2 linked regions of the Homo sapiens genome follow. The protein of the gene in region 1 interacts with the protein of each later gene in a pairwise test. Each region holds a gene or a part of one and is shown in the gene's direction. Other genes may lie near its edges.

The links.
Region 2: the proteins of LGI1 (region 1) and CLIC6 interact in a two-hybrid assay, tested with the Homo sapiens proteins (one large-scale study listed by BioGRID and IntAct).

What each region holds. Positions count from the first base shown.
Region 1 is NC_000010.11:93,760,902-93,764,713, forward strand, and holds part of LGI1 (leucine-rich glioma-inactivated protein 1 isoform 1 precursor), read left to right. Parts: intron 1-2,188; exon of another isoform or gene 2,189-2,275; intron 2,276-2,882; exon of another isoform or gene 2,883-2,997; intron 2,998-3,812. UniProt on the Homo sapiens protein: Regulates voltage-gated potassium channels assembled from KCNA1, KCNA4 and KCNAB1. It slows down channel inactivation by precluding channel closure mediated by the KCNAB1 subunit.
Region 2 is NC_000021.9:34,667,457-34,671,866, forward strand, and holds the start of CLIC6 (chloride intracellular channel protein 6), read left to right. Parts: upstream 1-1,537; 5' UTR 1,538-1,932; coding exon 1,933-3,306; intron 3,307-4,410. UniProt on the Homo sapiens protein: In the soluble state, catalyzes glutaredoxin-like thiol disulfide exchange reactions with reduced glutathione as electron donor. Can insert into membranes and form voltage-dependent chloride-selective channels.

The sequences.
Region 1 (3,812 bases):
CAGATTGGCTAACCTCAACATGGTAGACTTGTGCCAGAGCTGAACTTATGCAAAATTGTCAGGGGCCAAAGTTTGTCCCTAATCTCCAGGACCCTGTGCCTGAAGACTCTGCTCTCCATCCTTCTTGCCCAATATTCTCTGCTTCCGCCTATCCTCAGGAAAAGGTCTAATAAACTCATGTGCGGTGTGTAGGAAATATATGAGAAGGCTCTGAATATGAACTATGAAACGATCATAACAATTGTGGGAATGCATGGATCCCACAGAGAAAGATCTCTTCTGTGAGACAGGGCTGTCCAGTGCCCTGAAAACCCCATATGGGCTGCCAATCCCCCTTTGGAACATGAAGACCAATGGCATTGGACCACCAGATTAGGCCTAGATCACACAAGCCATTGAGGTTTGCAATGAATTCCAACAGCATTTGTGATTGTGAATTGCCACACTCACCCATCATACACTGTGAAGAGATAAATTTCAGAATCAATTCGGCTTGATTGACGTAGGAAGACAGTTCGTTGGTTTCTTGCTTTATTGTTGGGAAGGGTTAAAGCAAATGTCCTATTTCCATCATCCACCCTAAAAATCTGATAATGTCAGTATGCCCCCAGATGCTTTTTCAGAGCTTCTGAAAAAGCTATGATGAGAAGTACTTGTTGAAATGTCAGTCTGGGGTACTGAGGAAAATAGACATGGTATCTGAAGTTACATGCAGTGTTTGGGAAAAGATCCTGGTAGGCCATGGCTGGCAGTTTGTGTTGGAGAACAAGAAAAACAAAAACCCACATTCCGTAGAGAAGAGAGAGAAAGAATAAAATTATTCAATAAAAATTCATTAGATTAGTTGTAATATACATTTTTTAAAAATCTCATTTATGGGTTTAAACATAACAATAAAAACCTTTCCCAAGCAAATGCAATTTCATTCATGTTTTACATAGGGCCAGTTTCGAAACATAACCAATGACAACGATTATGCGTTCTAGCTTGCTTTTAGTGATAGAAAGTGGTACTTTTAGTGAATGCAGTTTAGGGAAATGTGTTTTCACACATTACAGCCCTGTTCCTTCTCAACTACAGACTGAAGTCCCCAATGATATGGGCTCATGATGGAAGTGAAATTCAAATTTAAGAGGACAAAATGTGGCCACTTCGCCACCCACTTATAACATATTTTAATTATAAACCCCTGTAATTCCCGAGAGTGTTCTATTTTCAGGGAGTGATTTCCAGGGTAGTTTTAGTATCATGCTCAAATAAAACAACACAAAACAAAAACACTGCACGTAAGAATCCGACATGACCAGAAAAAATTTCTTAGTATTCCAATTGGATGTGGTCTTGTTTGAAAGACAGAATTGATCTTTCAGGGTCAAAGGAGGGGAATAGCGTTATTTTAAAAATTAATCCACAATCAACACATAAATACCTGATCCATAAGAAATTAAAAACTAAAAACAAATGGAAAAGCAAAAGGCATGAACAAAAGAAGGAATAAGTCCATCCTTACTAAGGCTTTATCATTTAGTCCTTCAAAATATGATCTGTCCAGGAAAAAATATCCATGGCCTCCTTTACCTTTAAAGCAATTGCTACCTTTTTCTATTCCTCCTTATATTAGAAGCCTACAATTTAGCAGTCTTCAATGACCACTCAAGCCAAACCTATCAGCCAAGGGTGTTTTTGGAGGAATTATTAGCTGGTTATAGGTGAGCACGTTTTGGTTTGTATCCAGCTGATGCCCCCATGATGGACCAAAAAGCAAAAATTTCAGTCATCTAGGCTGTTTTGTCTACAGTTTGCCCAATGATCCATAGATCTAATCTTTAACTTTTTAATTAATTACTTCTTTTTTGTTTTTACTTTCTTAAAAATAATTTTAAATTTTATTTTAGATTCGAGGGTCCATGTACAGGTTTGTTACTTGAAGTGAATTAATTCTCGTAACTGCACAAACTAGCACTCACCACAATTGTTTTCTCTGAAAGTGTATTTCATCCTTTCAGTTATTCAGGCAAGAAACTTCAGAGTTACCTGACCCCTCTCTTTCACTCTCCACTTCCACCTGGACAAGCATCCTGTCCGACAGCATGAGAATCTGCCTCCTCCTCTTCACCACAGCACCACTGCTTTCACTGAGGCTGCATTTCATTCACTGTTTCACAGGCTGTGGCAGGAGCCTCCACGCCTCACTGTCTGCTTTCAGTTCCCATCTGACCCATCTCCATTAGCGCTGCCTTTCCTGAGACACAGCTCTCCGTGCTTTCATGACTCCCTAGAAACAGAGAAAGTCCAGACACCTGAGCTGGCATCCATAGTGTTTGGCCCTTTCTATTTGTCCAAGGTTATCACTCACATCATTGACTCTACACACACAGACACACACACACACACAGACACACACACACACACGTGCCCAAACAAGTTCTGCAGGATCTCATTCTATGACCTCTGTTGATTCTCAAATTCTCTAGACTTTACTGATGTCTGGCACTGTGTGCCATTTGCTAGAGTTATGGTGCTTGTATCTGCCTTGTGTCTTTCATGGAGGATCACCAATAAACTGTGGTCCCAGAGAAAAACCCAGACATGTTTTCCCATGTATTTGTTGAATCCAGTTTATGTTTCCATCGATTTTGTGCTGAAGACTCCTGTGTTACTCTCAGCAGATAATGCTGGTCATGTTCACACTCTTTCTGATGTTTGGTGCACCCTATCTGAATTCACGTGGACTAATAGTGTGGAGGTCTGGGAAGTGAGCCGAACTAAAAAAACTCGAGGAGATATTTGCTCATGAAGTTGTGAATTCAAACTTCCTCAGCAGAGATTTCCAGCATACCAGATTTCAAAGGCAAAGCATCTAAGCCTTTCCTTAGACCCACCGCTCGAATCTCTTGTGTCCCACGCTGACTTCACATTTGGTCTCCTTGGTTTTTAGTCAGACTGCAGAGGCCGACTAGTCTGTCCTGGGAAGGGTAAGATGCTCCTTTATCCAGCCTGACCGGACATCCAGAGGGAAATGTTAGTTAAGCATTATTAATATGAAAAGAAAAATCAATAACACAAAGATAATTTCCTTTTTGATTTAAGTACTGCTTAGCCAAAATAAGTATTTATTTATTGTATAGTTGCAAGCAGCAACAAAATGAAAACAAAAGCCTCCCATTTTAGCAGACATGTTTTGAGGCTCTACTGGGTAGCAGGTACAATGTTGGGCTTTGTGAAGGACACAAAGATGAGTGACACGCTGTCACTTTTCACCCTGATATGGCAGCTCCAAGCTGGTAGTGATTCTTGATATGGTAAATTATACTTTGCCTGTATTTGAATGCATTAGTTTCATTTAAAAAATTATTTTTATGTAAGTAGAGATGAGGTCTTGCTATGTTGCCCACGCTGGTCTCGAACTCCTGGCCTCAAACAATCCTCCCACCTCACCCTTCCAAAGTGCTGGGATTATGGGTATGTGCCTGGCCTCCTTAAATGTATTATAAGGTAGTCTTGATAAGCATTCTCATTTTGTTCAAAATGAGATTCAGTTGATTAGTGATGATGGTGATGCTTGCTGGTTGTTGATCCTGTGGCTAATACGGGCTACAGAATGTCTGCAAGGGCTTTACAGCATCAGCTGTAATATCAAAACAGCTGACCCTGGTGAGCTGGCAATGAGGCAGACAACACAGACTTGTGGGCAGATAAGCATGGGTTCAAATCCCCACTCTGCTTCTTCCTAGTTGTATGATTTGGGGCAAGCTTAATCAAGTCTTGATATCTATATCTACAAAATGAGGAAGAACCGTAGTACCTATTGC
Region 2 (4,410 bases), on another chromosome or scaffold:
ATCTCACCAAATGTGATGCCTGTCTTACTGCAGAAATATTAATGTGTTTGATCACAAAGTGATGTTCTGTGTTATGTAATATACAGTAAAATCACTCAATCATCTTTCTAACAATTCTGTTTTCTGAAACACATCCGGGCTCATGGGATTTGCATAAAGCACTGTAAACCTGTACTGTGTTTGCTGTTCCGGGCTGAACGTGCTGGCTTCATCTTTCTTTACAAGATAAGGGTGATGGCTGCTACCTTGCCCCGGTGAATGCAGCAGGATTCCTTTTCTAGGTGCCTAGAGCTTTTACGGCTCACGTGCATCTCTGGCTCACCTGTGTGAGTGTCATGCTTTGACTAGATGCCACTTTGTGGTGATGAAGCTTCTGGCCTGTACCTACCCAGACAGAGCACAGCCTTGGAGAAAGGTAGCATGAAGCTGAGTGTCTCTGGGCTCCTGTCCTGTCATCCATCAGTGATGAGCAATGGGAAGTAGAAGGAGACACATTATGTTCATGGCCAAAGGTGTGACCCCAAGCCACATCAAAGGCACACCCAGCTCTTTCAACGAAAACAACCTTCTGTGGGCATGAGGGGCTCATGTATCTTAGGCCAATATCAAAGCCATATAAAGCCTGATGAATCAAGTCAGTCTTGAGCTGGGATCCCCGTTCCACCACATTTACATAGTGCCACCTTGGGTAACCCAGTTTCTTGGTAACCCACTAGAAGTAGCCTGGCTTATAATAAACTTACGACATACTTTTCACCATAATAACTTCCTTTTTAAAGTAGGTATTGGGTCTGTGATCCTGGGAGAACCCTAACCCAGGGAATTCCATAGCTCCCCTCTTTCACATCTTGGATTTTCTTTTCTCCACCTCCAGATTCCCAAGCTCTTAACTTGGAGGCAGAAGCACTGGTGGTGAGTTTAGAAATCTAGGAGAATCAGCAAGATACACAGACTCTTACAGTCTTAAGAGACCCGGGAGATGAAGGTGTAACCTTTTTCCAGCGCAGGGCTCCCACGATCCTCCAGACAGGCCCGGAGAAGCGGACCCTCATGGACAACAGCGCCCATCTCTGGTCAGAGAAACTCGACTGGCTCCTTGTGCGTCTATATGAGGGGCCTCTGGAACCTCTCCGGGGGCCCTGCAGACATGGGAAGGCGGCCAGCGTAGCCTCCCCAGCTTCTTCTCTCAGGGATTTACACCCTTGCTCTTGGACATCAGGCACAATGTGGACATCTTCAGTTGGGTACCGGGGGAGCTTGATGCTTCACTCCTGGGGTAAGGTGGGGATTAGGTGTTTGGGTGTCGGGGTGTGTGTTTGGAGGGGGTGATTTAAGTGACTCTGGAACTTGAAGCCATTCTAGAGAACAACACCCAAGCGGCCAGGAGAACCAGAATCTTTTCATCAACATCCACAAGGGTCACGAGAAAGGCTGTCATTGGCCAAGCTCCTAGGCTACCCAAACAAAGGAGGGAGGAGGGGAAGACAAACCCCGCCCAAGCCCCAGGGGATGGAGTTGGCACCAAGGACTTCTGGTCAACCCCAGGACAGCGGACAGCGGGCCGGGCACTTCCAAAGGCGCAGGAGCGAAGCAGCCCTCTCCAGCCGTGCACTGCACCTCCGCGGCCCGCGGGCGAGATTGGGGTCCCGGTGGGAAGCAGACGCGCAATCGGGGAGAAGCTCCAGCAGTGGAGGAAGAGTCCAGGGAGTTTCAGCTGGGCAGAAGGGGCGCAGAGGCTTGGGGCCAAGCGGAGTTTGCCCTGCGGGTCCTGCGCAAGGCCCCAGTGCCCCGGCTAAACCTTTGCCGCAGGATCCCGGAGCCGGCGTCCTTCAAGGAGCACAGAGGGCCCCGTAGCACGCCCCTTGCCCAGCGCCACCGACCCTTAAGCAGCGTCAAGGAAGGAGTCCCGATCAAGGACAGGGATCTGCGGCCATGGCCGAGGCCGCGGAGCCGGAGGGGGTTGCCCCGGGTCCCCAGGGGCCGCCGGAGGTCCCCGCGCCTCTGGCTGAGAGACCCGGAGAGCCAGGAGCCGCGGGCGGGGAGGCAGAAGGGCCGGAGGGGAGCGAGGGCGCAGAGGAGGCGCCGAGGGGCGCCGCCGCTGTGAAGGAGGCAGGAGGCGGCGGGCCAGACAGGGGCCCGGAGGCCGAGGCGCGGGGCACGAGGGGGGCGCACGGCGAGACTGAGGCCGAGGAGGGAGCCCCGGAGGGTGCCGAGGTGCCCCAAGGAGGGGAGGAGACAAGCGGCGCGCAGCAGGTGGAGGGGGCGAGCCCGGGACGCGGCGCGCAGGGCGAGCCCCGCGGGGAGGCTCAGAGGGAGCCCGAGGACTCTGCGGCCCCCGAGAGGCAGGAGGAGGCGGAGCAGAGGCCTGAGGTCCCGGAAGGTAGCGCGTCCGGGGAGGCGGGGGACAGCGTAGACGCGGAGGGCCCGCTGGGGGACAACATAGAAGCGGAGGGCCCGGCGGGCGACAGCGTAGAGGCGGAGGGCCGGGTGGGGGACAGCGTAGACGCGGAAGGTCCGGCGGGGGACAGCGTAGACGCGGAGGGCCCGCTGGGGGACAACATACAAGCCGAGGGCCCGGCGGGGGACAGCGTAGACGCGGAGGGCCGGGTGGGGGACAGCGTAGACGCGGAAGGTCCGGCGGGGGACAGCGTAGACGCGGAGGGCCGGGTGGGGGACAGCGTAGAGGCGGGGGACCCGGCGGGGGACGGCGTAGAAGCGGGGGTCCCGGCGGGGGACAGCGTAGAAGCCGAAGGCCCGGCGGGGGACAGCATGGACGCCGAGGGTCCGGCAGGAAGGGCGCGCCGGGTCTCGGGTGAGCCGCAGCAATCGGGGGACGGCAGCCTCTCGCCCCAGGCCGAGGCAATTGAGGTCGCAGCCGGGGAGAGTGCGGGGCGCAGCCCCGGTGAGCTCGCCTGGGACGCAGCGGAGGAGGCGGAGGTCCCGGGGGTAAAGGGGTCCGAAGAAGCGGCCCCCGGGGACGCAAGGGCAGACGCTGGCGAGGACAGGGTAGGGGATGGGCCACAGCAGGAGCCGGGGGAGGACGAAGAGAGACGAGAGCGGAGCCCGGAGGGGCCAAGGGAGGAGGAAGCAGCGGGGGGCGAAGAGGAATCCCCCGACAGCAGCCCACATGGGGAGGCCTCCAGGGGCGCCGCGGAGCCTGAGGCCCAGCTCAGCAACCACCTGGCCGAGGAGGGCCCCGCCGAGGGTAGCGGCGAGGCCGCGCGCGTGAACGGCCGCCGGGAGGACGGAGAGGCGTCCGAGCCCCGGGCCCTGGGGCAGGAGCACGACATCACCCTCTTCGTCAAGGTAAAGCTCGCTTCCCTCAATTCTTAGGACGACCCCCTTCCATTCGAGGTCTTGGTCATCTCAGATCCCAGAGGGACGCGCAGGGAGGAACCCTTGGTGGTATCCTGATTGTCATCAGGCGCTTCCATGCGCGGGCGGTAGGCGGGACAGCCGGGATTTCCCGGAGAAGAGTTTCCAGGGCATTTGCGGGAGGACTCAATGGTTTGGAAGCAAAGACTTTGGGGGTGGGGGCGACGGGGAGTGCGATGGGGGCCAATGAGGATGTGGGGTTGTGGGTTCAGCATCCCACTGTCCTTTGACCTGAACATCCTAACCAGCCCTCCTAGTCAGGAGGTTATTAACGAATTAACTAAAAAGTTAAAAAAAAAAAAAAAAAAAAAGAAGAAGAAGAAGAAAAGCAACGCACCCTATTGGTGTTCAAAGGGATTTCTGCCAAAGGAAGCTTTAATACTTGAAGCCAAAAAACGCAGACAGGTAGGTTCAATGTGGGAGGTGCCTTCCAGACTCAATCTCGGAGACCCAGAGCTGGTCAATGTTTTCAACTCCAAAAAGGTATTCCATTTTGGTAGAATCAACAATGTACGTTTAGGGGGGAATGGAGCCTTATTGACATAATGTTTTTTGAACGTTTTAACATTGAATTTGGAAGAATACAAGATGCCGGTGACTTGAACATCATCTGCTTGTATGTCATGTTTTTAACCTCAGTTCACATGGGAAGAGAGCAAGGATTCTGTGAAGGAATCTGTAGAGACACAACTGAGGAAGTTTTGAATTTAAACAGGAATTATTTACAAGGCATGAAAAATGAAAGAACAAAGCTCAGCAGCAGTTCACACCAGGATCTTTGTTTAAAAAGCCTTTTCTGAGGACCTTTGGCCAGACCCAGGAAAGTTGGAGATAATAAGGTCAAGAATGTGCATTTCATGTTGAATCATAATCCTTCAGAAATACTTCCAGGCTTATAGAAACCAGTTACCATCTAAATCTCTCTGGCTGAAATGCAAGCACATTTTAATAAGTAAAAGGAAATGCTCCCAATGTGATTAACATCAGAATTTTAAGAATTGTTTGGGTGGCGAGGGGCTTGGGAAAGAAGGGGTG